4 linked regions of the Homo sapiens genome follow. The protein of the gene in region 2 interacts with the protein of the main gene of each other region in a biochemical or structural test. Each region holds a gene or a part of one and is shown on either strand. Other genes may lie near its edges. The genes, in order: USP4, RBBP8, WDHD1 and PAN2.

Region 1 (7,027 bases), on a different chromosome or scaffold from region 2:
CCAGGTTCAAGTAATTCTCCTGCCTCAGCCTCCTGAGTAGCTGGGATACAGGTGCCCGTCCCTCCACCTGGCTAATTTTTGTATTTTTAGTAGAGACCAGGTTTCACCATGTTGGCCAGGCTGGTCTCAAACTTCTGACCTCAAGTGATCCTCCCGCCTCAGCCTGCCGAAGTGCTGGGATTACAGGCCTGAGCCAGCGTGCCTGATTTGATTTCAACTTTCAAGTCTTATTATTTAAGAAATACATTTTATAAGACTTTATCTGCCATAGATAGTGATTCTCCTGAAGGATCTGGGCAAATTAAATTGAAAACCTTTTGGAAAGGATTTACCATTCTAGATGCCATTAAGAATATTCATGATTCCACCTGGTGCAGTGGCTTATACCTATAATCCCAGGACTTTGGCAGGCTGAAGTAGGTGGATCCTTTGAACCCAGGAATTGGAGACTAGGGTGGGCAACTTGGCAAAACCCCATCCCTATAAAAAATACGAAAATTAGCTAGGCCTGGTGGCATGCACCTGTAGTTCTAGCTACTTGGGAGACTAAGGCAGGAGGATTGCTTGAGTCTGGGAGGTCGAAGCTGCAGTGAGCTGTAATCATGCCACTGCACTTCAGCCTGGGTGATAGAGTAAGGCCTGCCACTCCCACCTGCCCACACACACACACAAAAATATTCATGATTCATGGGAGGTCAAAATCAACATTAATAGGAGTCTGGAAGAAGTTCATTCCAACACTTACGGATGACTTCAACGGGCTCAAGACATCAGTGGGAGAAGTAACAGCAAAAGTGGAAATAGCAAGAGAACTAGAATTAGAAGTGAAGCCTGAAGATGTGACTGAATTGCTTTATTTTTTATTTTTACTTTTATTTTTATTTTTTTTGAGATGGAGTTTCGCTGTGTCACCCAGGCTGGAGTGCAGTGGCGCAATCTTGGCTCACTGCAACCTCCGCCTCCTGGGTTCAAACAATTCTCCTGCCTCAGCCTCCCAAGTAGCTGGGCTACAGGTGTGCACCACCATGCCCAGCTAATTTTTGTGTTTGTAGTAGAGACGGGGTTTCACTACCCTGGCCAGGCTGGTCTTGAACTCCTGACCTCATGATCTGCCCACCTCGGCCTCCGAAAGTGCTGGGATTACAGGTGTGAGCCACTGCGCCTGGCCTATTTTTAATTTTAATTTTTATTTATTTTTATTTCTTTTGAGACAGAGTCTTGCTCTGTCACCCAGGCTGGAGTACAGTGGGGTATCTCGGCTCACTGCAGTCTCCACCTCCTGGGTTCAAGCAATTCTTATGCCTCAGCCTCCCGAGTAGCTGGGACTACAGGCATGCATCACCATGCCCAGCTAATTTTTGTATTTTTACTAGAAATGGGGTTTCACCATGTTGGCCAGGCTGATCTTGAATTCCTGACCTCAAGTGATCTGCCTGCCTCAGCCTCCCAAAGTGCTGGAATTACAGGCATGAGCCAACATGCCCGGCCTGAATTGCTTTAATCTTATGATAAAACTTGAATGGCTGAGGAGTTGCTTCTTATGGGTGAGCAAAGAAAATGGTTTCTTGAGATGGAATCTATGTCTGGTGAAGATGTTATGAGCATTGTTGAAATGACAACAAAGGAACCCTGCCCTGAAAAAGGTGTGTAAACTAGTCGGAGGGATGGTGGGAAACCATAACCACCTCATGTATGATTTATTTATTTTTGAGATGGAGTCTTGCTCTTTCACCAGGCTGGAGTGCAGTGGCGTGATCTTGGCTTACTGCAACCTCTGCCTCCCGGGTTCAAGCAATTCTCCTGCCTCAGCCTCCCGAGTAGCTGGGACTACAGGTGCCCGCTACCACACCCGGCTAATTTTTATATTTTTAGTAGAGACGGGGTTTCACCATGTTGGCCAGGCTGCTCTCAAACTCCTGACCTCATGATCCAACCGCCTCAGCCTCCGAAAGTGCTGATTACAGGTGTGAGCCACCACACCCAGCCTGGAGTTTTTCTTTTTTATCCTCTTCTCTCCCTCCAATTATAGAAGAAATACAAATTCCTCATAAAATCTTCATGGATAAAGAGAAAACATGGATAAAGACAAAAGTCTGCTCTGTATAATGACCAGTGACAGAATTTTGGAATTTCATTCCTGTTTCTTTCTGTAAATAATTTTCTTATTTCTGAAAAGTACATGGAAATCATGTAAAACCATCATTTCTGGGGTAAAGAGCAGTGACTTATGTGCTCTTTTCCTTTTTTAGATCCTGAGAGTCAGACCTTGAAAGAACACTTAATTGATGAATTGGACTATGTATTGGTCCCTACCGAGGCGTGGAATAAACTACTAAACTGGTACGGCTGTGTAGAAGGCCAGCAACCCATCGTCAGAAAAGTGAGTTATGTGAATTGTCCCACCTGCTGGTCACTGTCTGCAGGTGCTTTCTGTTGGACACTGACTAGTGTTTGCTAGGAAAATGAACATACCTCAGTGGTTGAATAGTGGTGCTTGAGGCCTTGTTTCTGGATCTCTTTTTTTTTTGAGATGGAGTCTTGTGCACTTGTCGCCCAGGCTGGAGTGCAACGGCACGATCTCGGCTCACTGCAGCCTCTGGCTCCCAGGTTCAAGTGATTCTCGTGCCTCAGCCTCCTGAGTAGCTGGGATTACAGGCGCCTTTCACTACGCCTGGCCAATTTTTGTATTTTTAGTAGAGACGGGGTTTCGCCATGTTGGCCAGTCTGGTCTCAAACTCTTGACCTTGTGATCCGCCCGACTCGGCCCCCCAAAGTGGTGGGATTACAGGCGTGAGCCACTACGCCCAGCCTGTTTCTGGTTCTCTTTAGGAAATTGTGGTTGTGAGTGAAGTTGCTCACCCAGAATATTATCATGAGTGGCCTCTAAACATCAGAGCTGCCCAGTGGCTTGGAATGTGCCCAGCAGCGCTGTGAGAGAACTTTCTGGAAAATTCTATGAGAGAAAGTTCACTGGGGGCATATGGACATATAGCTAATGTCCTGCATCTTGTTTATCTTAAAAAACCTTTATGATACTGCTTTTCCCTCTATGCTTAAGAGTCTTTGAGCTAGGCGCAGTGGCTCACATCTGTAATCCCAGCACTTTGGGAGGTTGAGGCGGGTGGATCACGAGGTCAGGAGATCAAGACCACCCTGGCCAACATGGTGAAACCTCGTCTCTGCTAAAAATCCAAAAATTAACTGGGTGTGGTGGCACATACCTGTAGTCCCAGCTACTCGGGAGGCTGAGGCAGGAGAATTGCTTGAACCCAGGAGACGGAGGTTGCAGTAAGCCGAGATCACCCCACTGTACTGCAGCCTGGCAACAGAGTGAGACTCGGTTGCAAAAAAAAAAAAAGAGTCTTTGATCAGGCCGTGCATGGTGGCTCACGCCTGTAATCCCAGCACTTTGGGAGGCTGAGGCAGGCGGATCACGAGGTTAAGAGATCGAGACCATCCTGGCCAACATGGTGAAATCCTGTCTCTACTAAAAATACAAAAATTAGCTGGGCATGATGGTGGGCCCCTGTAGTCCCAGCTACTCGGGAGGCTGAGGCAGGAGAATCTCTTGAACCCAGGAGGTGCAGGTTGTAATGAGCTGAGATCGCACCACTGCACTCCAGGCTGCTGACGGAGGAAGACTCCATCTCAAAAACAAAAAACAGTGAAGAATAGGCTTCTCTCTAATATCATCAAGATGCTCTTGGTCTTAGTGGGTAGAAAAAAAATATATATATATTTTTTTGCGGGGTACAGAGTCTCGCTCTGTCGCCCAGGCTGGAGTGCAGTGGAGCGATCTTGGCTCACTGCAGCCTCCACCTCCTGGGTTCAAGCGATTCCCCTGTCTCAGCCTCCTGAGTAGTTGGGATTACAGGCACATGCCACCATGCCCGGCTAATTTTTGTATTTTTCATAGAAATGGGGTTTCACCATGTTGGTCAGGCTGGTCTCAAATTCCTGACCTCAAGTGATCCACCCACCTCGGCCTCCCAGAGTGTTGAGATTACAAGCGTGAGCCACCACACGCGGCCAGAAAAAATATTTTTAAACTCTTTGTCCAGGTACTGGTAGCTTTAAAAATCTGTTCTTTTGATCCCTTGATCAGTAAAGGAAATGGATTATCATGAGTTTTCTGCTTTTTGCTTCTGATAAGATATGCTACATCCAAGACTGCCCAGCTGCAAAACCGCTATGCCCTCACCCCTGCCTCTTGTTCATAGGTTGTGGAGCATGGCCTGTTTGTCAAGCACTGCAAAGTCGAGGTGTATTTGCTGGAACTGAAGCTCTGTGAGAACAGTGACCCCACCAATGTGCTGAGTTGCCATTTCAGCAAGGCAGACACCATTGGTGAGAGGCTGGGCTGGGGTCCCTGGTATGTGGTGAGAGAGTGTAGGACATTGTGGCTGATGGGAGGGAAGAGGGCATTATTTTATATGCCCTCTTTAGATTTGTTACCCAAATCATCTCGAGCTGTAGTTGCCAGTCCTGACCTGGGGGCCTATTCCTCCAGGAATTCTTATGGAGAGAACACTGGGCCTGCTCCTTGCCCATTTGTCTATGATAATGAAGATAAGGAAATGTAGATCCAAAGAAGTTTAAAAATAACTTATTTAAAAATCTCAGCAAGGTTTACAGTGAGCTACGATCCCACCACTGCACTGCAGCCTGGGCATCAGAGCAAGATCCTGTCTCTTAAAAAAAAAAACAAATCGCAGCCAGAAAATGGTGGAGCTAGCTTTTGAAGCCATATCTGAGTTAACTCCAAAGATAAGCTTTCTCGCTTTCTATGTTGCTTTTGCGCCATAAATGAGAGACACACGTTAGCAAAGAAGCATAGGGATACTTTCCAGGCATATGAGTGCAAGAGGCCACCCATGGGAGATGATTGATTTTAAGAGGTATCAGGGGGTTGATCCAGAGCACCTGTGAGCATCTGACAAGAAAGAGGATGAGCATTAGTTTGCCATGGCTGTCTTTAGCCTTGCATGTGGACAAAGCCCCAAGTGATATTTCTGCCTGTTCCTAGCAACCATCGAGAAAGAGATGCGGAAGCTATTCAACATCCCTGCGGAGCGTGAAACACGGCTCTGGAACAAATACATGAGCAACACCTACGAGCAGTTGAGCAAGCTAGACAACACTGTCCAGGATGCTGGGCTATACCAGGGTCAGGTAGGAGGGCCCTGGCCATTCCCCAGCAGGTAGCTCTGCCCAGGGTGTGTGGCCAGATACTTTTTGCTTCTAAGCATGTTGGAAGTGCGGTGGTTTGAACTCTCCTCATTTGGTTTCCCCTTTCACTCAGGTGCTAGTAATTGAGCCTCAAAATGAAGATGGCACATGGCCCAGGCAGACCTTGCAGTCAAAGTAAGTGAATTTTTTCTCCCTTGTTGTAGGCTCACATGTGCAAAAGAGACAGTCTTTCCTAAGGCAGTACTTGTACTAAGAAAAATTGTTCTGATTCAGATGAACAATGCCTATTTTGTATATCCAGAGTTCATGCTTCTGGATGAAGACCGTGGCTTTTGGTAGCAGGGCAGCATCTAAGGGAAGCCTGTCAGGATATCTCAGCAAGGTGGCGAGCCTCTGCTCGTGGAGAATGAGAAAAGGAGGAAGGGATATGAGGGATCAAGTCTAAGGTTGCTGCTCTACCAGGAGGTTGCTTTGTTTTTGTCACGCTTTTATTTTCTCCACATGTAGTTAGAGGCCTTGATGGATAAGAGGAAGGCTAAGGCATGGGGTTTTATATGACTTAAAAGTGATAGTTGAGGCCTGAGCATGGTGGCTCATGCCTGTAAGCTCAGCACTTTGAGAGGCCGTGGGAGGTGGCTCACCTGAGGCCAGGAGTTCGAGCCCAGCCTGGTCAACATGGTAAAACCCTGTCTCTACTAAAAATACAAAAATTAGCTAGGCATGGTGGCAGGTACCTGTAATCTCAGCTACTCGGGAGGCTGAGGCTCAAGAGTCGCTTGAATCCAGGAGGTGAAGGCTGCAGTGAGCTGAGATCGCACCATTATACTCCAGCCTAGGTGACAGTGCAAGACTCTGACCCAAAAAAAACAAAAACAAAAAAAAAGTGATAGCTTGATTCTACCTGTTTCTGCCCAGTGGCCTGTTACTCATTGTTGCCCTGGGAGCTTGCTGGGTGAATTGTTCAGCTACAAAACTTGGACTAAGGACACATCTGTTTCAAGAGATGTTCATGTGGTATGTGGAACTGTGCATGTTCTTAGGGAGATAAAGAAGTGATTAATTTTCGTTATGGTATAAGTTTTGGAAATTATATCTGTGTTCCAGTAGTTATGGGAATAATGTTGCGCTCTGTCCTTTTCCCTCTGTCAGGCCTTGGACTGTGACCATTACATAGTAGTGGGCTCCTAGGTCATTTGAGAACCATGAAAACTATGAGTTCTTAAGAGAAGAACTGTTAGAACCCCTGAAGTCCAGTCATGGACTCCAGTTTAAGAAACCCCGGTTGCCAGTTGTTGACAAGATAAATAAAATAGCTGTGGTAGGCATAGCTGTGCTCATCTTCACCCTGAGATATCCATATCCTAATTCCCAGAATCTGTTTCAGAATCTGTCATTATGTCAGGTGACATGGCAAAAGGGACTTTGCAGATGGGATTAAGCACAATGGTGAGTGCCTGTAGTCCCAGCTACCTGACAGGCTGAGGTGGGAGCATTGCTTGAGTCCAGGAGTTTGAGGCTGCAGTGAGCTATGATTCTGCCATTGCCCTCCAGCCTGGGCGACAGCAAGACCCCATCTCTTTTTTTTTTTTTTTTTTTTTTTTTTTAAAAAGGCCAGGAGCAGTGGCTCATGCCTGTAATCCCAGCACTTTGGGAGGCCGAGGTGGGCGGCTCACCTGAGGTTGAGAGTTTGAGACCAGCCTGACCAACATGGAGAAACCCTGTCTCTACTAAAAATGCAAAATTAGCCAGGCGTGGTGGTGCATATCTGTAATTTCAGCTACTTGGGAGGCTGAGGCAGGAGAATCGCTTGAACCCGGGAGGCGGAGGTTGCAGGGAA
Region 2 (7,027 bases):
CGATCCTCCTGCCTCAACCTCTCAAGTAGCTGGGACCACAGGCACACACCACCATGCCTAGCTAATTAAAAAAATGTTTTTTGTAGAGACAGGGTCTCGCTTTGTTGTCCAGGCTGGTCTCAGACTCCCGGACTCAAGTAATCCTCCTGCCTTGGCCTCCCAAGTGTGTGCCACTGTGCCCAGCCTGACAGCATTCTTAATAATGAGTGGGACAATTCCTTTCACTGTTAATTTGTGCAGTCTTAAGATAATGTTCTCTTTTTAGAATTTTTGATTCTATGTATAGAAAATAAATGGAGCAATTAAAAAATGAATCAAGAAATATTTATCCTGTCCTATTAGAGCCCCCAAACTTTCCCATTTCTTCAAGGTGTTTCAACTTTGCCTCACAAAACCTACCTAGTTTTCTTTGAAACTGATTACCATATTTACTAGACACAGAAAATATATTAGCTAGATGTTAATAGCAGACGCTGGCATAGGCAAAAGATCATTTATTAAAATAGTGGTATTCTGAAAATAAATATTTTAAATTCTATTTTATTATTTGTGCTTTTGATAATAAACTTGATACTGAAAAAGATTTTTAAAGGCAATAAAATTTTGTACCCAAATAAATATGCTTTAAAACTTTTGAAATTTAAAGAATTCTGAAGTTTCCATTAAATTCTGTGAGTTCGGAATTTAAAGCATAAACACTGTATATCATCAGTAACAATCTGTGACACTGATACTAGCAGCATTTGTCACAAAAGGAACATATCATGAAATGATACAATCATGAAAGGATAAAATTATCTTAAAGGATATAAAAACTCGGTCATAAATGTCTCCAGAATTTTTCAACAAAAATGGTCTGGTTTGCATATTGCTAGTCTCCAACAGAAATTAGAGCATTTTGTCTATTCTTGCCTAGTTTTAAAAGACATGGATGCAGTTTATTATATTGTTGTGATCAGTGCACATACTGTCATATTTTGCTATCATTTTATTATGTTTTGGCAAAAGAGGCAAAAATAATTCTAAACACGTGTAGCAGAGCATTCAGATTCAAGCAAGTTCCTATGGGTACATTTCTGTAGCTAAGTAAAAACTATATATCTCAAATATTACCATTCCCAACATTTCTCTTTTATTTTTTACTGACATGAAGCTTTAAAAGTCATGAGTCAATTTTGATTCCTATATATACCTTAAAACCTGCAAAGTCCAGACAAGTCCATGTTTGATGTCTTTCAAACAGCTTCTTACACTGGTTTCTACAAATGGATTCCCCACCTCCTTAAAAAAATTAAGTTCCCTTCAGGCATGTCTTTGATGTTATCATATAGAGACTCTAATTTTATATGGAACTATGTGGAACATATTGACGAAGGCATGGCCCAAACCAAAATGTTTTAAAATGACATATCTACTTAAAAAATAGTACTTATTCATTTAATACCTTTAAGAATCCATAAGTTATTTGAAATTGGGAAAGTGGCATGATCAATATAACGTACCAAAGATTATCTTCTCTTATGAGCTCATATATCCAATACCTAATATTCATAAAACACATGGACCTTATCATATACACCAACAATTACTGTATTCCTCCCTTAAAGTTATTCAGAGTATAGAAACTTTTGTGGGAATGTGATTAGAACATAACCATGAGGAGTACACTTTAAAGGAATTATCTACTACATAATATTTGCAAGCTTTATATATTCTATAATTTGATAAATATGGCATATTGTTCCTATTAAAGAGTATACCATTTGTTTCTTGATGCTTCCTCACTGTAAAATAGGGATTTCATGAAGATCCTGTAACACCAAAGAATAGGAAGAAGAAATCTGTCAAATATTTTATTTCTATTAAATTAATAGCTTATAAATAGCCAGGCACAGTGGCTCCTGCCTGTAATCCTAGCACTTTGGGAGGCCGAGATGGGCGGCTTGCTTGAGGTCAGCAATTCAAGACCAGCCTGGCCAACATGGTGAAACCTCATCTCTACTAAAAATACAAAAATTAGCCAGGAGTGGTGGTGCGTGCCTGTAGTCCCAGCTACTTGCGGGGCTGAGCCAGGAGAACTGCTTCAACCTGGGAGGCAGAGGTTGCAGTGAGCTGCGATCATGCCACTGCACTCCAGCCTGGGTGACAGAGTGAGACTCTGTTTCAAAACATAAAAAACAAAAATAGAAATCAAGAGTTTCAAGAAAGTTGCAGAATATAAAATCAACTCACTAAAACCAGTTGTATTTCTATACACTAACAATGAACAATCTGAAAAGCAAATTAAAAAAACAATTCTATTTACAGTAGCATCAAAAGAATAAAATACTTAAGAATACATTTCACCAAGGAGACAAAAAACTTGTACAATGACAATCAGAAAATGTTGCTGAAAGAAATTATAGAATGACCAGGTGTGGTGGCTCACACCTGTAATCCTAGCACTTTTGGAGGCCAATGAGGTCAGAGGACTGCTTGAGCCCAGGAGTTGAGACTAGCCTGGGCAACAAAATGAGATCCCTGTCTCTATAAAAAAATAAATTAGCCAGGTTCGGTGGTGCATGCCTGTAGTCCTAGCTACTCTGAAGGTGGAAGCGGAAGGATTGCCTGCACCCTGGAATTTGAGGCTACGGCGAACCATGATTGTGCCACTGCACTCAAGCCTGGGCAATGAGGCAAGACCTCATCTCTAAAAATTAGTAATTAAAAATTAAAAAATCTTAAAAAGAAATATAGACCGGGCGCAGTGGCTCACGCCTGTAATCCCAGCACTTTGGGAGGCTGAGGCGGGCGGATCACGAGGTCGGGAGATCGACACCATCCTGGCTAACACAGTGAAACCCCGTCTCTACTAAAAATACAAAAAATTAGCCGGGCGTGGTGGCGGGTGCTTGTAGTCCCAGCTAGTCAGGAGGCTGAGGCAGGAGAATGGCATGAATCCAGGAGGTGGAGCTTGCAGTGAGCCGAGATCGCGCCACTGCACTCCAGCCTGGGCTACAGAGCAAGACTCTGTCTCAAAAAAAAAAAAAAAAAAGAAATATAGAAGACACTAATAGAAAGGTATCCCGTGTTCATGGACTACAAAACAATATTGTTAAGATGTCAATACTATATAAAGCAATCTACAGATTCAATGCATTACCTATCAAAATCCCAAATCCCAAAATCCCAACATTTTTTGCAGAAATAGAGAAATCTGTCCTAAAGTCAAGGCAAGATGACAATCTCTTCAGCATAGCACATACCATTTTACATAATTTGGATCTATGTACATTTCTAGCATCATATCCTATCCACCTCCCCCAAAACTCCAATCTCCCATTCCATTTCCTCTTAGAACTAAACCTAACTATCCAGAGTTCCTTGAATAAAATCAAGCTCTTATCTGCAAACTTTTGCATGTGCTATTCTCTCTACTCAGAAAATTCCCTCCCCTTCCACCATCTTCCTTGCCTGGCTAATTAGACTTAATTATCAAGCCTGGTCTGACATAAACCATGCACAAACCCACTTCCCCATGCAACCACACACACCCTCAGTTCTTCCTTCATGTTTTCAGATAATAACATAGTATACTGCATTAAAATTCTAGACTAGAAATTCCCTTAAAGCTAGCACTATATAGGATTTATTCTTATTCACAAGGTCTGGCACATAGTAAGTGCCCAAAAAACATTTCTTGAACATTTCTTTGTGTCTCCATGAACACTGGGGCTTGAAAGAATACTTTTGGGGTTGTTCATATTTCAAAACTCATTAATTAATAAGGGTGTCACCAGAAGTTTTGCAAGAAACTAAACTTACCATGGGAAAGTTCTTTTTTTTTTTGAGACGGAGTTTCGCTCTTGTTGCCCAGGGTGGAGTGCAATAGCGTGATCTCAGCTCACTGCAACCTCCGCCTCCTGGGTTCAAACGATTCTCCTGGGTTCAAGCGATTCTCCTGCCTCAGCCTTCCTGAGTAGCGGGGATTACAGGTGCGCACCACCACACCCGGCTAATTTTGTATTTTTAGTAGAGACAGGGTTTCTCTATGTTGGTCAGGCTGGTCTCGAACTCCTGACCTCAGGTGATCCGCCCACCTTGGCCTCCCAAAGCACTGGGATTACAGGCGTGAGCCACCGTGCCCAGCCTACCATAAGAAAGTTCTAATACAGACTCACATACTACACTTTAGATTCAGGTTGATTATGTTTTAATAGTACTCCAGTGTAATGATACAGCTATAAAGCACTGCAATATTAAACTTATAATAGGTAATCAAGAAACAAATGTAATATGAAGCATTTCTCATACATAGGGACATAGGGAAAGTTACAGAATTAAAGTATATTAAAATTTAATATTAAAACCTTGAGCTTAGCTTCATATGGTGTATCTTTTAACACAAATAATATTTACTCATCTCAACCACAATTGCTTAATCCTCTAAAACTCCTTGCACGTCATAAAAACCTTTTAACTGTTATTTCACTGTACTGTAATTATCTGTTTACACGACTCTACTAAGACTGCAGGCTGTCTGAAGGTAAGTGGCCATTCACTTTTGTATTTCAGTGCTACGGGTTTGTCAAATGACTTTATGTAGTATTTTTATGTCTATATCCTGCAAAGAATTTTATAGAAGAAAATTAAATTTAGAGGTTAGGTAATTAGGCTAAGATCACAGAGCAAGTGGGTAAATGAAATCAGAATTCAAATGCAGGTCTTCAGTCAACAAATTGTATACGTTTTCCACTATCTCATACATATTACCACAAGTAAATAACAGCAAGTTGTATACAAACTATGTTCTGTGGTTAAAAAGCACCAATTTGACCATAAAAATGAATCACAAAAACTACAATTGTAAATGTCCTCTAAAAATGAGATCTGGCTGGGCGCAGCTCACGCCTGTAATCCTAGCTGTTTGGGAGGCCAAGGCGGGAGATCACCTGAACTCAGGAGTTTGAGACCAGCCTGGGCAACATAGCGAAACCCTGACTCCACAAAAAATACAAAAACTAGCTAGGTGTTCTAAGGTGAAGGATAAGTTTAAAAAAAACAAAAACAAAAACAAACTAGCTGGGCATGGTGCGTGCGCCTGTAGTCCCAACTACTTGGGAGGATGAGGTGGGACAATCACTTGGGCCCGAGAGTTTGACACTATAGTGAGCCATGTTTGCACCACTGCACTCCAGCATGGGTGACAAAGCAAGACCCTGTCTCAAAAAGAAAAAGAAAAAAAGATCAGCTGGGCACAGCAGCGGACACCTGTAATCCTAGCACTTTGGGAGGCTGAGGCCAGTGGACTGCTTGAGCCCAGAAGTTCAAGACCAGCCTGGGCAAAAAGGCAAAACTCTGTCTCTACAAAAAATACATAAAATTAGCTGGGCGTGGTGGTGCACACCTGTAGTCCCAGGTACCCAGGAGGCTAAGGTGGGAGGAACACCTGAGCCTGGGAGGTTAAAGCTGCAGTGAGCTGTGACCATACCACTGCACTCCAGCCTGGGCAACGGAGTGAGAACCTCTCTGAAAATTAATTAGTAAATAAATAAATACATGAATATATAAATAAATAAATAAATAATGAGATCTTTGGGCCAGGCGCAGTGGCTCACGTCTGTAATCCCACCACTTTGGGAGGCAGAGACAGAAGGATCACTTGAGGCCAGGAGTTCAAGACCAGCCTGGGCAACATAGTGAGACCCTGACTCTACAAAAAATAAAAAATTAGCCAGGCATGGCAGCGTGTGCCTATGGTCCCAACTACAGGAGGGAGGCTCACTTGAGAATGGGAGGTTGAAGCTGCAGTGAGCTGTGATCACACCACTACACCCCAGCCTGGTGACACAGTGAGACCCTGTCTCAAAAAAAATAAAAAAAAAAAAAAGATATCTTTGAATTTAAAGATGGCCATTAAATGTACAAAATTCAACAGTGGACTGAATTAAAAAAAAGTATATATACATCATGGAATACAATGAAGCCATAAAAAAGAACAAAATTATTTTCTTTGCAGCAACATGGATGCAGATGAAGCCATTACCCTGAGCAGACAACAGAAATACTGCATGTTCTCATTTATAAGTGGGAGCTACACATTTAGTACACATGGACACAAAGAGGGGAACAACAGGTACTGGGACCTACATGAGGGTGGAGGGTCAGGGGGGTGGGAAGAGGGTGGGGATTGAAAAACTACCTATGGGGTACCATGCTCACTACCTGGGTGATGAAATCATTTGCACACCAAACCCCAGCAACATGCAATCTATCCATGTACCAAATCTGCACATGTACCCCCGGAACCTAAAAGCTGAAATAGAAATAATAAACAGGACTGTCATACAAAGGTATACAAAGCCACTACAGTCTCAACAAAATACTGCTGTAAGTATTTAAGAAAAGATTTTACCTTGTACTTCTCTATCATGACATTCTTTTAGTTTTGTCCAAAGGTCCTTAAAGTCACTAGATGTATCTGCAGAGTTAGGGCTTCCACAGCTGCTTCCCGAGATGTTCATCTTGCTTAATATGCTCCACACTTCTACTTGCTTAATATTTTCTGACCTTTTCTGTTACATTATAGAGGTATCAAGTCGTCTTTGGACAGGTCAAATACCTGAAATGACAGATTGCAACATAAATGAACTTTGCATTTATCTTTATGTACTTTGAAATCAGGATGAAACACAAGCCCAGATATCCTCATTTACCATTTCCTTATTTACCTATAATCAATCATTTTTAGAATTTGGGAGGGGAAGGAAAGAATAAGGAAAGATGATAATGGTGAGAAAAGTTCTGATTTCAGTTATTTGGCTATATGAGGTAAATTTTCAGGCAAATTTTCTTATTTCTCTTAGAGGAAGAAATTATCTCAATTATATTAAACAGAAAGGATTCAGATATTGAGGGGTTTTTATCATTCATGGTCAGTATTAATTTACCACTATAGACTAATGTATTGTTTTGGCTGGGGGAGATGGCTCTTGCCTGTAATCCTAGCTCTTTGGGAGGCTGAGGTGGGCAGATCACTTGAGGCCAG
Region 3 (7,027 bases), on a different chromosome or scaffold from region 2:
TGGCCAGTAGTCTATTATCTGTTCTTCTTCAGCACAGTGTGCCATGCTATACCTCTGCTTAAAACCTACAACAGTCTCTCAGTGACCTTAGAATAAAGAGCAAAATCCTGACCGGGTGTGGTGGCTCACACCTGCAGGTCCAACAACTTTGGGATGTGGAGGTGAGGAAATTGCTTGAGTTTGAGACCAGCCTGGACAACAGAGTGACACCCCATCTCTATTAAAAAAAATAAAATAAAATAAAAAAAAGACCAAAATCCTTAATATGGCCTACACAGATCTGCATGACTTGGCTCCTGCCCATCACTCCGAAACCCTTCAGCACCACTTTCTCTTTGCTCTCTGAGCTTTTCACACCACCCTTTTGCAGCCTTCAGTTCACACATACTGTTCCTTAAGCCCAAATGCTTCTCTTCTGCTCCTGTTCCCATGCACCTTTGCCTTGCTGACTGTTATTCATCCTTCAGGTCTCTGCTGTAAACACTCCATGAGGCCTGCCTTGAAGTCCCTACCCATCCTCCACCACTGGCTAGATGACAGCTATGTGTCATACGCTCTTTTCATATTCTACATGTTTTTTAAGTTAATTTTTTTAAATCAAAGTAACATATGTCCACAGTTTAAAAAGTCAAATGGTACTATAAGGTTTATGCTCCCCACCAAAAAAGGGCCAGCAGTGCCTTACTTCAACCTTCTCTTATCCCCCAGGCCCACTCCCTGTACGCAACCATTTTCAACTCCTTTTTTTTTTTTTTGAGATGGAGTCTCACTCCATTGCCCAGGCTGGAGTGCAATGGCACGATCTCGGCTCACTGCTACCTCCACCTCCTGAGTTCAAGTGATTCTCCTGCTTCAGCCTCCCGAGTAGCTGGGATTACAGGCACATACCACCACCCTCAGCTAATTTTTGTATTTTTAGTAGAGATGGGGTTTCACCGTGTTGGCCAGGCTAGTCTAGAACTCCTGACCTCGTTATCCGCCCACTCCGGCCTCCCAAAGTGCTGGGATTACAGGCGTGAGCCACTGCGCCCAGCCTTCAATTCCTTTTAACTGTTTCTCCAGTATCCTGCATGCTTCCTCAGTGATACCCAGATCTGTCTTCAACATCTGTCTTCTCAGCTGGGCTAAAATAGCATTAAAACAGAGATCAACCACACATGTCTGTTTGACTTCTGTATCCACCATTAAGTAAAATGCCTGACACTCAATAGGCATTTTATAAACATCTGTTAAATGACCATAGCTTCACAAACAACATCTGAGATTAAAAAAACAAAAACATAAACACACACACACCAAAAGTGGCCTTAAGAGTTAAGGTGTATTTGCGTAGATGTGTCACTTTGCAGATGACTTGCAAAATTTCCTTGATATTACAAATTTATAAATATTTCTCACCTGACTTAGCTGAAACATCAGAGGAATTTGTACTTTTGGAAAACGAGTTCTGTCCTACAGATTAAAATAAAGCAATATAATGTAAATGGGGAAAATATAGTCATCCTCAATATACAACAACCAGATAGCAAAGAGGTCTGAAAAAAAGTATGAGTATTCAATTTCCCTCAGTTAAGCAAAATGGGAAAAGCCACATCCATGATAGTTCTCATGATTTATGGGCTTGAAAATGTATCTCACCAGGCTTATGTATTTCTGGTTTTTCTTCATCATCAGCTTCTCCACTGTCCTCAGCATCTTCTTCAACTTGATTTCTGAACCTTGGTTGGCTCCACTCTGTAGCAGTATTGCTGTAACTAAGAGAAAATAATATTATTCAATAAAGAGCTATGCAAAGACCAACTTAACATTCAAGACAGTAAAGGAAAATTCAAACAACTAAATTATTTCTTACCCAGCATTCAGCTTTTTTCTGAAATCTTCTTCTTCTTCTTCCTCTTCCACCTGGGTTGCTGTCAATTCGGCTGCCTTCTCTACAGCCAGTTCACTTAGTTTTTGAGCCAGTATTAATTTCCGAGAGCGAGAAGCATATTTAATGGCTAAATTCACAGCATTTTGAGTCATTAGATCAGCAAGTTCCACACAACGGAATTCTCGCTCCAGTTTACAAGAAAGCTAATCCAAAAAGGGGGGGGGGGGGGAGATCAAATAACATCAAGTAAAACTTTTTAAAGATACTGACACTACTAGTAAAACTGAGACAATAGTTTTCTAGCTACTCTATCTCCCTAATTCTAAGATGCACATTTTTACAAGTTTTAACATCTCTGAAATTGGAATTACAATTAATTACAATTAATGGTGGGTCAGTTTGGCAGCATTTTTATGTCTCCATGGCTTAAATGAATAAAGTAATGGTGCACTATGCAATAAACAGTGGCTTAGATTTGATGAAATATTACATACCACTTTAATCTACTAATTGCAAGAAAATTAAGAAATTTGTTTAAAAAATTCAAGGGGGAGGCTGGGCACGGTGGCTCACGCCTGTAATACCAGTGCTTTGGGAGGCCCAGATGGGTGGATCATGAGGTGAGGAGTTCGAGATCAGCCTGGCCAATATGGCAAAACCCCGTCTCTACTAAAAACACAATTAGCCAGGCGTGGTGGCGTGCGCCTGTAATCCCAGCTACTCGGGAAGCTGAGGCAGGAGAATCGCTTGAACCCGGGAGGTGGAGGTTGCAGTGAGCCAAGATTGCACCACTGCACTCCAGCCTGGGCGAGAAAGCGAGACTCTGTCTCAAAAAAAAAAAAAAAAAAAAAAATCAAGGGGGCCAGGTGTGCTGGCTCACACCTGTAATCCTAGCACTTTGGAAGGCCAAGGCAGAGGGACTGCTAGAGGCCAGGAGTTTGAGACTAACCTGGGCAACACAGTGAGACCCTATAACTACAAAAAATAAATTAGCTGGGCGTGGTGGCATGCACCTGCAGTCTTATCTACTCAGGAGCCTGAGACAGGAGGTTCACTAGAGCCCAGGAGGTTGAGGCTGCAGTGAGTTACAATCTTGCCACTGTACTCTAGCCTGGGTAACAGAGTGAGACCCTTTCTCTAAAAAATACAAAAAAGAAAAACAACAAACTGAGAAAAGTTGGTATTTTGAAGATTACTAAGGGTCTCCTAATTCATAGTGTATTAGAACTATTTTCTTACTTAGATATTCCATGTCTGATCCATCAGCACAAAAGCTTTAGATATTCACCTGGATGCCCTTTTCAAGATTTTTAGTATCATTTATCTATAATCAGTACTTCTTAATCGGGATGGTACACTGCCTCAGGGGGCATTTAGAAATAAAAAGGAAGCCGGGCGCAGTGGCTCACACCTGTAATCCTAGCACTTTGGGAGACTGAGACAGGTGGATCACAAGGTCAGGAGATCGAGACCATACTGGCTAACACGGTGAAACACAGTCTCTATTAAAAATACAAAAAATTAGCTGGTGTGGTGGCAGACAACTGTAGTCCCAGCTACTCGGGAGGCTGAGGCAGGAGAATGGCGTGAACCTGGGAGGCGGAGCTTGCAGTGAGCAGAGATCGCGCCACTGCACTCCAGCCTGGGCAACAGAGCGAGACTTCGTTTCAAAAAAAAAAAAAGAAATAAAAAGGAATAGTCTGGTTTCCACAGTGACTATTCTGAACTAAAGGCATTTGCCCGGGGGTCAGGAATGCTAAAGAAGAACTCAACAATCCCCTTGAACTCCTGGGCTCAAGATATCCTCCTGCCCTGGCATCTTTGATATGAGTCCCCTGGTATTTTTGATATGAGAAACACTGCCACAGGGAAAAGCTCCTCTAGGCTAAATAGCAAATACATGAAATATGTTTCCTTATATGTGTTGTACAAATAAAAAGGCTACTAGTTCCTGGACCACAAGTAACACTTTATAAAAGGAATAAAACTTTTTCTACAATAAACTGAGTTTTCTTAATACCAAACTTAAGGCCATGTTGCATAAAGGTGACAGTAGTGAGTACTACCTTTTGGAGACAAGAGTGGCAATTTGCTCTGTGGTCTCATATACCACTTTTCTCTAAGAACCTTTTTTCTCCAATTTTAAAATTAAAAGTCTGGACCATTCACTCTTGTCAACAAATATCGAGGTCTACTATGTGTTAAGCCACCATGTCAGTGCCTGGCATACAGCAGTGAGCAGGTCTCTGCCCTCTGGGGCATAAAGTCTAGTGTAAGACAAATAAAGAAGAAATGATACTATACTCCTCTCCATAAACCAACCTTGAGTGGGGACACAAGCACAGGAACTTTAAGACACCCTGCTCCAAAGATAAATGTACTTAAATATTCTAGACACCAAACCTGGCCACTGGTCACAAATAAATTTTCATCACACACAGCTGCCTAACTCAAAGAGGATGACAAAAGGCAGGCATATCTAACAGCCCGATCAAAGTTCTTAAGATTGCCCAGCCCTGGAGATTAAAAAACAGTATATACTCAAACTTTGTAAAATAATAACAGAAACTAGAGCAGTGGTTCTCAGTTACCTTGAGAGCCCGTTAAAACATAGACTGATGGGCAAAAGCAAAAGGGAAGTAGCCCTAGAGATGTTTATTCCTGCACATGATCTTAGCTACAAGGTACTGTTTTATTTATTTTAGGCTGGGCACGGTGGCTCATGCCTGTGATCCCAGCACTTTCGGAGGCCGAGGCAGGTGAATTACCTGAGGTCAGGAGTTCAAGACCAGCCTGACCAATGTGGTGAAACCCTGTTTCTACTAAAAATACAAAAATTAGCCAGGCATGGTGGCACACGCCTGTAGTCCCAGCTACTCGGAAGGTTGAGGCAGGAGAATCACTTGAACCCGGGAAGTGGAGGTTGCAGTAAGCCAAGACTGCACAACTGCACTTCAGCCTGAGAAACAAGAGCGAAACTCCGCCTAAAAAAAAAAAAAGAAAAAAATTTTAACTGCAAGACCAACTAGAAGATAGAACTTTACAAGGGAAAACACCACCAGATAAAACTTAAGAATGGCTGGGTGTGGTGGCTCACACCTGTAATCCCAGCACTTTGGGAGGCTGAGGCGGGCGGATCACGAGGTCAGGAGTTCGAGACCAGTCGGGCCAACATAGGGAAACCCCATCTCTACTAAAAAAAAAAAAAAAAAAAAAAAATTAGCTAGGCGTGGTGGTGTGTGCCTGTAATCCTAGCTACTCGGGAGGCTGAGGCAGAATTGCGTGAACCCGGGAGGCAGAGGTTGCAGTGAGCCGAGATCGCACCACTGCACTCCAGCCTGGGTGACAGAACGAGACTCCGTCGCACAAAAAACAACAACAACAACAAAAAAAAACTTAAGAATCTTAGGTTGTGGGACTTAGTCCTAATGCACAGACCTTTAAGAAATTCAACCTATAGAAAAGCATTTAACTTTAACGTTTTCAGTATATTTATTTTACTCACCGCAAGCATTTTCATTAAAAGTTCCTGTTGCTCTTTTGTTGCTTGATTTTTAGTGCTCTCTTCATATTCATAACCATTTTTAGCTAAATAATCAAGGTGGTTGTGAAATATAACTGAACGCCAAAATTGCTCCTATAAAAGCAAATAAAATTGCTTAAGGCCAACTATCACCTTAATATGAGGCAAGCGTTAAATATTTATCTTAAGATACCAGTTTTTGAATAAAATATGTTCTGAACTCTTCCTTTCTATAAGTTTATTTTACAATTTAAATTCTAGTGTGATACTACAGCTTAACTTTTTCCCCTATCCTTAAAAAAGGCAGCTGGGGAGGAATACAGCATTTAAAACAGTTTCCTAGCTATCATAATTAATGCTCAGAGAATTTGGTAAACAAGATTTTTAAAAGCTAACTTGTTTCTTATTTAGAATAACTAACTGCAAGATTTCAAATGACTTTTGATGACACAAGGCTAGGACTAGGGTCAGGCAAGCCAGGTGTTATGGCACAAAATGTATGGAGGCACTTCTTCTCAGGGACATGCCCCATCCTGAGAGTAAGTCTTTCCCCAGTGGGTCTCTGACAGTCACACCCATTTACTTTGTAGACAAAGTCCCTGGAAGCAGTGATGGCAATCAGGTGGCCTGGTGATCCCAAGCAGTCCTCTTCCCTCCCTGCTACCCCTATTTATGTAATTATACAGTAATGAATATTCAATACTGGCCATCAGGATAATTTTAAAGTGTGTGTATCACAGGTGCTGTATTATCAAATTCAAAGTGTCAAGGTAAGACTTCCACATACCTCCATTTGTCCTTTCTCTGTTGCAATCTGACAGTAAGGAAGCTTAAAGGATAATATAGCAACAGCAGGGCGTGGAAGGGTTGGGGGAAACCGAGAACCTTTACAAGGAATGCACCTGTTAGTAAAGAAAAGTTCCATCATAAAAATTTACTAACATGTCATAAAAACTACAAAATTTAAAAAGTTTTCAAAAGTTAGTAACTTAGAATAGTAATATTATAATAGCTGCCTTAATCATATATAACAAATATCTCTTTTTAAAAAAGTGTTTTAGGCTTGACTAGGCATAAAGACTATCCCTACATGCATTTCAAGAATAGAAAAATTCCTTCTCACATCTCACTTGATTTATTTTTTTTGAGACAGGGTCTCACTGTGTTGCCCAGGCTAAAGCACGGTGGTGTGATCACGGCTCACTGAAGCCCCAACCTCCCAAGTTCAAGCAATCCTCCCACCTCAGCCTCCCAAGTAGCTGGGACTACAGATATATGCCACCATGCCTGGCTAACTTTTGTATTTTCAGTAGCGATGGGGTTTTGCCATGTTGCCCAGGCTGGACTCGAACTCCTGGGCTAAAGTGTGCCTCCCACCTTTGCCTCCCAAAGTGTTGGGATTACAGGCGTGAGCTACCCTGCCCAACCTCACATCTCACTTTATTAAATGACAACCACTAAAAGTGAAATCAGCTCTCTTCATATTTTCCTTAGCAAACTACCACTTTTAAAACATAAAAATTGTACCATTAATACCTGTCATGGAATCCATGTTATCACCAAGATAAATGCTGATGAAGCTGCACATGGAACATACTCTAAGGTCAACCACATGCTTGGCCGTAAAGCAAGTC
Region 4 (6,877 bases), on a different chromosome or scaffold from region 2:
GGTTTCACCATGTTGGCCAGGTTGGTCTTGAATTCCTGACCTCAGGTGATCCGCCTGCTTCGGCCTCCCAAAGTGCTGGGATTACAGGTGTGAGTCACCATGCCCAGCCAGCATTTTTCTTAACAGTACTAATCAACACCTGATGTATTGTAATGTTTTTCTGTTTACTGCTTATTCCAAACCTAGACCTTAGGGCAAGGTCTGACACCTAGCATGTGGCTCAAAAAAACACTGGTTGAATGAATAAATGTCTACCTCTTCCAGTCCGGTAAATCCTAATTGCTTGTAGTTCCTGAATTTTGTACTCAGCAAGCTTTGTAGTATCTTGGGAATCTTTGTTTATCCTATGCTAAGACGCCTTTTCCCATCTTTCTCACCTGATTTCTACTCATGTTGCAAGACTCAGTTCAAGGGTTACTTCCTCCTCGATGCCCTTTCTGACTATTCTCCATCCTGTCCAGCATCCAGTACAGATTTTCACACTGGCGCTTAGTACCATGAAATTATCTGGTTTTGTATATGTTTTTTACCTCACTGTCCTGTAAACTCCTTGAGGGCAAGGATTATGTTTTATTTAGCTTTATTCACAGTGCCTAGCATAGCAGTAGACACTGCCTATTAAACTGAATGAATCACACACAAAAATTCATCCCTTCTAATGGAAAAACAATTCATGACCAAAGAAGTCAATCAGTAAATGAAGGACAGCGTTTTTTTTTTTTTTGTTTTTTGTTTTTTTTTGAGACGGAGTCTCGCTCTGTCACCCAGGCTGGAGTGCAGTGGCGTGATCTCGGCTCACTGCAACCTCTGCCTCCCAGGTTCAAGCGATTCTCCTGCCTCAGCCTTCCGAGTAGCTGGGACTACAGGCGCCTGCCACCATGCCCAGCTAATTTTTTGCATTTTTAGTAGAGACAGGGTTTCACCATGTTAGCCAGGATGGTCTCGATCTCCTGACCTCGTGATCCGCCTGCCTCAGCCTCCCAAAGTGCTGGGATTACAGGAGTGAGCCACCGGTCCCGGCCGGACAGCACAGTATTTCTTACAAAGTCTTTGGGCACCATAGCATATTGGCAATACGGGTACAGATTTTAAAAAATTAAGATTGATAACTGCTCTGAGAGATATTAAAATCAGCCAGAGAAGACAAAATGATTCAATGGAAGATATGCAGAATCATTCATTAAATATTCTATAATAATAAAAATAGAAAACACAGGTGGGGCAACAGCAATTGAGATTAGATTTGGATGGCTACAGACTAAGTGATGGGTACAACTATCAAGATAAATCAAAACACTGGATGGGCAATTGTGACAAAAGTGGGATGCTGGCCAGGTGCCGTGGCTCACACCTGTAACCCCAGCACTTTGGCAGCTCTATGCAGGAGGACCATTTGAGCTCAGGAGTTTGAGACAAGCCTGGGCAACATAGTAAGACTAAAAAATTTTTTAAAAATTAGCTGGTCTTGGTTGCGCATGCCTGTAGTCCCAGCTACTTGAGATGCTAAAGTGGGAGGATTGTGTGAGCCCAGGAGATTGAGGCTGCAGTGAGCCATGATCACATTACGCCATTGCACTCTGGCCTAGGCGACAGAGCAAGACCCTGTCTCGAAAAAAAAAAAAAAAAAAAGGGATGCCTCCTGAGAAAGAATATGTCATTTACTCCTAGATCCTAGATTCTCCCTTTATCCCTCCAACCAGACCCAGCTGTCTCATCACTACAACTCCTCGGTACTGGCTATCTGCAAAGCAGCTTCCTTGGGTTAAGACCAGATAAAGACCTTCAACATCTTTCAACCCTCACAAAGGGGTACAGTTCTTACCCCGTGGCTCCCCACCCACAGCATCTCCTCGTGCAAGTCAAAGTGGGAGACGGAAACAGGTACACCCACTTCAGCCACCACGCTGTGCAATTCAGAGTAGACACCTTCCATTATGTGCACTGATTCCTGGACGGGAAGAGCCTCCAAGGCCACTCCCTCTGGGTCCAGCTCCACATTCTGTAGCAGACTTGGGTTCAGGTGGGCATCCAAGACAGGGTCCAGGGCAGAATGCATGGCTGGGGCATATTCTGCCAGTCCAGGGTCCAGACCCTCAAAGTTCATGATGACGATGGCAGCTTACACCTGTGTCACACCCTCCCTTACCACAGTCCCTTTAGATGCCTGACCCAACCTTCAGCAAGACAGCACCGATGGGCCTAGAATGGACATCCTGGCCTGTAAGGGGAAAGAGGTAGCTGAGTCAAGGGTAGGCCCAGGTACTGGTACTTAGGGTCTTCTAGGTTATGGGGGCAGGAGGGAGATGAGGCAGGCATGAGGGATGAGACTGCCAGCCAAAGGATGAAGCAGGCGGGGGAGGGATGGGCAGTGGGGGTGGAGGTGGTAGAACTGTTGTCCCTATCCCTCCTCCGCTAGGCCCTCTGTACTCTCCACCACCCCATTATCTAACCTAATCCTTGACTTCCCTTTCTTCTCACTTCGGACTGCTCACTTGCCTTGTTCAGCCCTGAATCATCAGGTGAAGGGAGCGAGAATTGCGGGGGTTGGAGTTAGGTAGAGGGATTTAAGGTGCTTTCTCCCAGAATTGGGGGTGAAAACGGGTGGATTGGACGGTGGGGAGAACGAGAAGTCAGTTTCCTAGAATCCTCTCCAATAGCTACCCAGGATTCTCTAGAGGAAAACAATAATGGCCAGTTACCCACAATTGGGGCGGGGGCAGGGGAAGGTGACGGAAACGGCTAGTTACCCAGAATTCTCTGGGGGAACCAGAAAAATCGGTTATCTAGAATTCTCCCACGGCAGCGGTGAGGAGGGGGATAGGGCAAGGGTCAGATGTGTTCCTGGGATGCTTACGGGGAATGGGTCATTACCAAGATTTCTCCATGGCGGATATTTTGGAGCGCGTGGAATTAGAACGAGTAGGGGGAGCGCAAGCGCTGTCAGCTCCGCGGGAAATTCCAGTTTCCCCAGTTCTCCCCCACGCCTAGGGCTCAACCTAACCACTACGGCGCCAAGGACCGGGGTCCGAGGCGCTTCTTCCAATCAAGAAGGGCTCGGGGCATATTTTAGCCAATCAGAAGGGCTCCGGGCGCATCTAAGCCAATCAGAAGGAGCCAGGTACGGCGACCCCAGGAGAGAGCGTGTGACGCACGCGCCGGAAAAAGAGGTTACGGGGCGCCGGTGGGACAAACGCAGCCAGACGCCGGACTTGTTGGGTGGCGTTAGAAAGTAACTCTGTTTTTAGTCTTCTTGAACAAAATTACGTCTAGGTTTGAAAACCAAACTTTTATGCTTTCTATAACTTTAGGAACTCTAAAATAAGGGACACACAAGGCAAAGCACTAGGAGTCGCTGTTGGGTATTCCCAGCGGGGCTTAGTCTACCTCCTCTTCCTGCGGTGCCCTAGTGAGCCACTCCGCCACCTCTGACCCTGTTGCCCCCAAAACTCGCTGGCATTTCCTATTATTTCCAGATATGGGAGAGAAAAAAAAGGAAGCGGGAGCCGGACTCCTGACACAGTCCAAGTGGCTGCATCTTCTACAGGCATCCATCTGAAACTCCCATCCGTGATTGTTCCCTCCCCAGAGACCCCGGTAACATTCCCGGGTAACAAGATGCCCCTGGTTATCAAATTCCCCTAGCTCTTGAGGCTGGCTGGACGTTATCCCTCAGAGGGGGATGAGCATGGCAAATTGGGACTTGTTATTCTGAAGGATTCGTGGGTCCTGTGAACTCTAATTACTTTGAAATGGGTCTAGGTTGTGAGATGTCTCAGAGCACTTTAGCTCAGCTGTTATTACTGTTTCTAAAGGCCACATAAAGGGACTCTGATGGGAGACATTCCTCATGGAGGATTCAATTCTATAACATTTCTCTCAATAAAGGCTGGTAAATAGACCTTCATTAAAGGAACCAAGAATTTAAATTTCTAGGACTCAGAGGGGTGGGGTCCTATACCCAGTCAGAGATCCTACCTAGAGCCTAGACCAAGAGAAAAACACAGATGGTCTCTCAAACTGATTTGATCTGACTTCGCAGGTCATTAGATATAGAATCTCCGAAAAAGGTGGATGCTGAGAGACATAGACAGTTCCTACACTTTAAGAAATCTCCATCTTGAGGTCTCAAATTGAGAAAGACTTAACAGACCCATGAGAGTTACAGATCCCTAATAACCTGGGCTAAATAATCCATGTCTGCCGGGCGCAGTGGCTCACGCCTGTAATCCCAGCACTTTGGGAGGCCGAGGTGGGCGGATCACCTGAGGTCGGGAGTTCGAGACCAACCTGACCAATATGGAGAAACCCCGTCTCCACTAAAAATACAAAATTAGCCGGGCCTGGTGACGGGAGCCTGTAATCCCAGCTACTTGGGAGGCTGAGGCAGGAGAATCATTTGAACCTGGGAGGCGGAGGTTGCAGTGAGCCGAGATGGCACCATTGCACTCCAGCCTGGTCAGTAAGAGCGAAACTCCGTCTCAAAAAAAAGAAAAAAAAAAAGAAAAGAAAAAAGGATACTGTGAGGAGACACAAGAGCATCCATGACATAGATTATTTAGCTCAGCTGTAATTACTGTTTCTAATACAGTAATATTAGATGGTGATCTGCCTGCCTCGGCCTCCCAAAGTTCTGGGATTACAGGTGTGAGCCACCGCGCCCAGCCTTTTTTTTTTTTTTTTTTTGAGACAGGATCTCACTCTGTTGCCCATGCTTAAGCGCATTGGCCCTCTCACTCACTGTAGCCTCAACCTCCTGGGCTCAAGCGATCCTCCCACTTCAGCCTCCCAACTAGCTGTAACTACAGGCACTGGCCACCAAACCCAGATAATTTTTTTTTTCCTGTAGAGGTGGGGTTTTGCCACGTTACCCAGGCTGGTCTTGAACTCTTAAGCTCAAGCGATCCTCCTGCCTCGGCCCCCCAAAGTTCTGGGATTACAGGCATGAGCCACCATACCTGGCGTACAGTATCCAGTGTAATGCAGTGATTAAAAATTCAGGATCCAGACCGGGATGGTGGCTTGTGCCTGTAGTCCCAGGGGTGGAGGTTGCAGTGAACGGAAATGGTGCCACTGCATTCCAGCCTGGGTGACAGAGTGAGACCCTGTCTCAACAAAACCCCCCAAAAACCAAGAACAAAAAAGAATGCAGGATCTGATGCTAGATTGTCTGCATTAGAACTCTAGCCACTTAAGCTGGGTGTGGTGGCTCATGCCTGTAATCCCAGCACTTTTGGAGGCCGCAGGCGGGTGGATCACCTGAGATTGGGAGTTCAAGACCAGCCTGACCAACATGGAGAAACCCTGTTTCTACTAAAAATACAAAATTAGCCACCGGGCATGGTGGTGCATGCCTGTAATCCCAGCTACTTGGGAGGCTGAGGCAGGAGAATCACTTGAACCCGGGAGGCAGAGGTTACGGTGAGATGAGATGGCACCATTGCACTCCAGCCTGGGCAACAAGAGCGAAACTCCATCTCAAAAAAAAAAAAAAAAAAAAAGGAATTCTAGCCACTTAGAAGCTCTGTGATCTTGGGCAAATTGCTTATCTTTGCACCTCAGCCTCCTCCTCTGTAATATAGGGTAATAGTATCTACCTTAAAGGGTTGTTGTGAAAATTAAATAGTTTAGTACATGTAAAGTGCTTAGACAAAGTATTTGGCATTAAGCGAGAGTTGGATATATTAGCCATCATTATTAACCACCTGGGGGAACTTCAACTGATTTGGAGTCTAGGCATACAACTGGAAAGACCTGCCTAGGAGTGTCTTGTGAATGCGATTTGCATAACGGTTTAGGCCCAGCTGACGTCAAGGGCTCCTTATAGCTCCAGGTCAGTTGTAGCCCTGGATGTAGTTCCTGCCACGCAACAGTCCCACAATCTCCCCACCAACCCTTCTTCCTACCCAACTCCTGCAGCACCAGGAAGTGAAACAAAGAGGCAGAGCCCTGTGCCTCCAACTCACCCTTGTCCCTCTCATCCCATCCCCCAGGCTCTACTTCCTCCTCCTTTTCATCTTTCTTTCATCTCTTATCTTTTAGGGCTCCCAGAATGGGGACCAGAGATGGGAAGAACATAGGAGACGTTGTACACAAGTAAGGTGAACTCCCTATCCTGCCCCCTCCCCTTTCCTTATTCCATTGGTGTCCACCTTATTAGGGAGAGAGGCAAAACAGTTCTCACCCAAACTCAGATAATTCTCTGATGCTGGAAATGTTTAATCTAAAGGGTAGATTTCCATTTTTTTTTTTTTTTTTTTGAGACAGAGTCTTGCTCTGTCACCCAGGCTGGAGTGCAGTGGCGCCATCTCGGCTCACTGCAACCTCTGCCTCCTGGCTTCAAGCGATTCTCTTGCCTCAGCCTCCCGAGTAGCTGGGACTATAGGCGCCCACCACCGTGCTGGCTCATTTTTGTATTTTTAGTAGAGACAGGATTTCACCATGATGGCCAGGCTGGTCTCGAACTCCTGACCTCATGATCCGCCTGCCTCGGCCTCCCAAAGTACTGGGATTACAGGCGTGAGCCACTGTACCCGGCCCTTGGTAGATTTAACTTAGAATCGTAATATTTTTTTTTCTTCTCTTAGCTCATACCTACAGAATCATAATATTTGAACCAGAAGTGTCATTGGGCAGTTTTGAATAGCTCTAAGGGAAGGGAGACCTCCATTCAGGACAAGTTTCTCAGAAGAAAAGGGTCAACCTCTTGGGGGAGGCTTTGGGAGCCAGCTGTGTGGTCACCGATGGCCTCATTCTGACGTCTTCGAAATTGTTCTGGGACCCTCCACTGGGGTCGGGGCAGTCCCGGCTTTGGACCACCTTCCACTCCCACGCCCAACCTCACACTCTTAGCTGTTTCACTCGATGTTGCATCATGGAG

Evidence for each region.
Region 1: the proteins of RBBP8 (region 2) and USP4 form a complex in vitro, tested with the Homo sapiens proteins (one study listed by BioGRID).
Region 3: the proteins of RBBP8 (region 2) and WDHD1 form a complex in vitro, tested with the Homo sapiens proteins (one study listed by BioGRID).
Region 4: of the proteins of RBBP8 (region 2) and PAN2, one has a biochemical effect on the other in vitro, tested with the Homo sapiens proteins (one study listed by BioGRID).

Annotation. Positions count from the first base shown.
Region 1 is NC_000003.12:49,323,039-49,330,065, reverse strand, and holds part of USP4 (ubiquitin carboxyl-terminal hydrolase 4), read left to right. Parts: intron 1-2,249; coding exon 2,250-2,380; intron 2,381-4,220; coding exon 4,221-4,347; intron 4,348-5,026; coding exon 5,027-5,172; intron 5,173-5,302; coding exon 5,303-5,364; intron 5,365-7,027.
Region 2 is NC_000018.10:22,936,328-22,943,354, reverse strand, and holds part of RBBP8 (DNA endonuclease RBBP8), read right to left. Parts: intron 6,602-7,027; 5' UTR 6,504-6,601; coding exon 6,395-6,503; intron 1-6,394. UniProt on the Homo sapiens protein: Endonuclease that cooperates with the MRE11-RAD50-NBN (MRN) complex in DNA-end resection, the first step of double-strand break (DSB) repair through the homologous recombination (HR) pathway.
Region 3 is NC_000014.9:54,961,100-54,968,126, forward strand, and holds part of WDHD1 (WD repeat and HMG-box DNA-binding protein 1), read right to left. Parts: intron 6,296-7,027; coding exon 6,181-6,295; intron 5,508-6,180; coding exon 5,376-5,507; intron 2,074-5,375; coding exon 1,853-2,073; intron 1,755-1,852; coding exon 1,639-1,754; intron 1,453-1,638; coding exon 1,399-1,452; intron 1-1,398. UniProt on the Homo sapiens protein: Core replisome component that acts as a replication initiation factor. Binds directly to the CMG complex and functions as a hub to recruit additional proteins to the replication fork.
Region 4 is NC_000012.12:56,330,991-56,337,867, forward strand, and holds the start of PAN2 (PAN2-PAN3 deadenylation complex catalytic subunit PAN2), read right to left. Parts: upstream 3,011-6,877; 5' UTR 2,872-3,010; intron 2,729-2,871; exon of another isoform or gene 2,497-2,728; intron 2,219-2,496; 5' UTR 2,105-2,218; coding exon 1,823-2,104; intron 1-1,822. UniProt on the Homo sapiens protein: Catalytic subunit of the poly(A)-nuclease (PAN) deadenylation complex, one of two cytoplasmic mRNA deadenylases involved in general and miRNA-mediated mRNA turnover.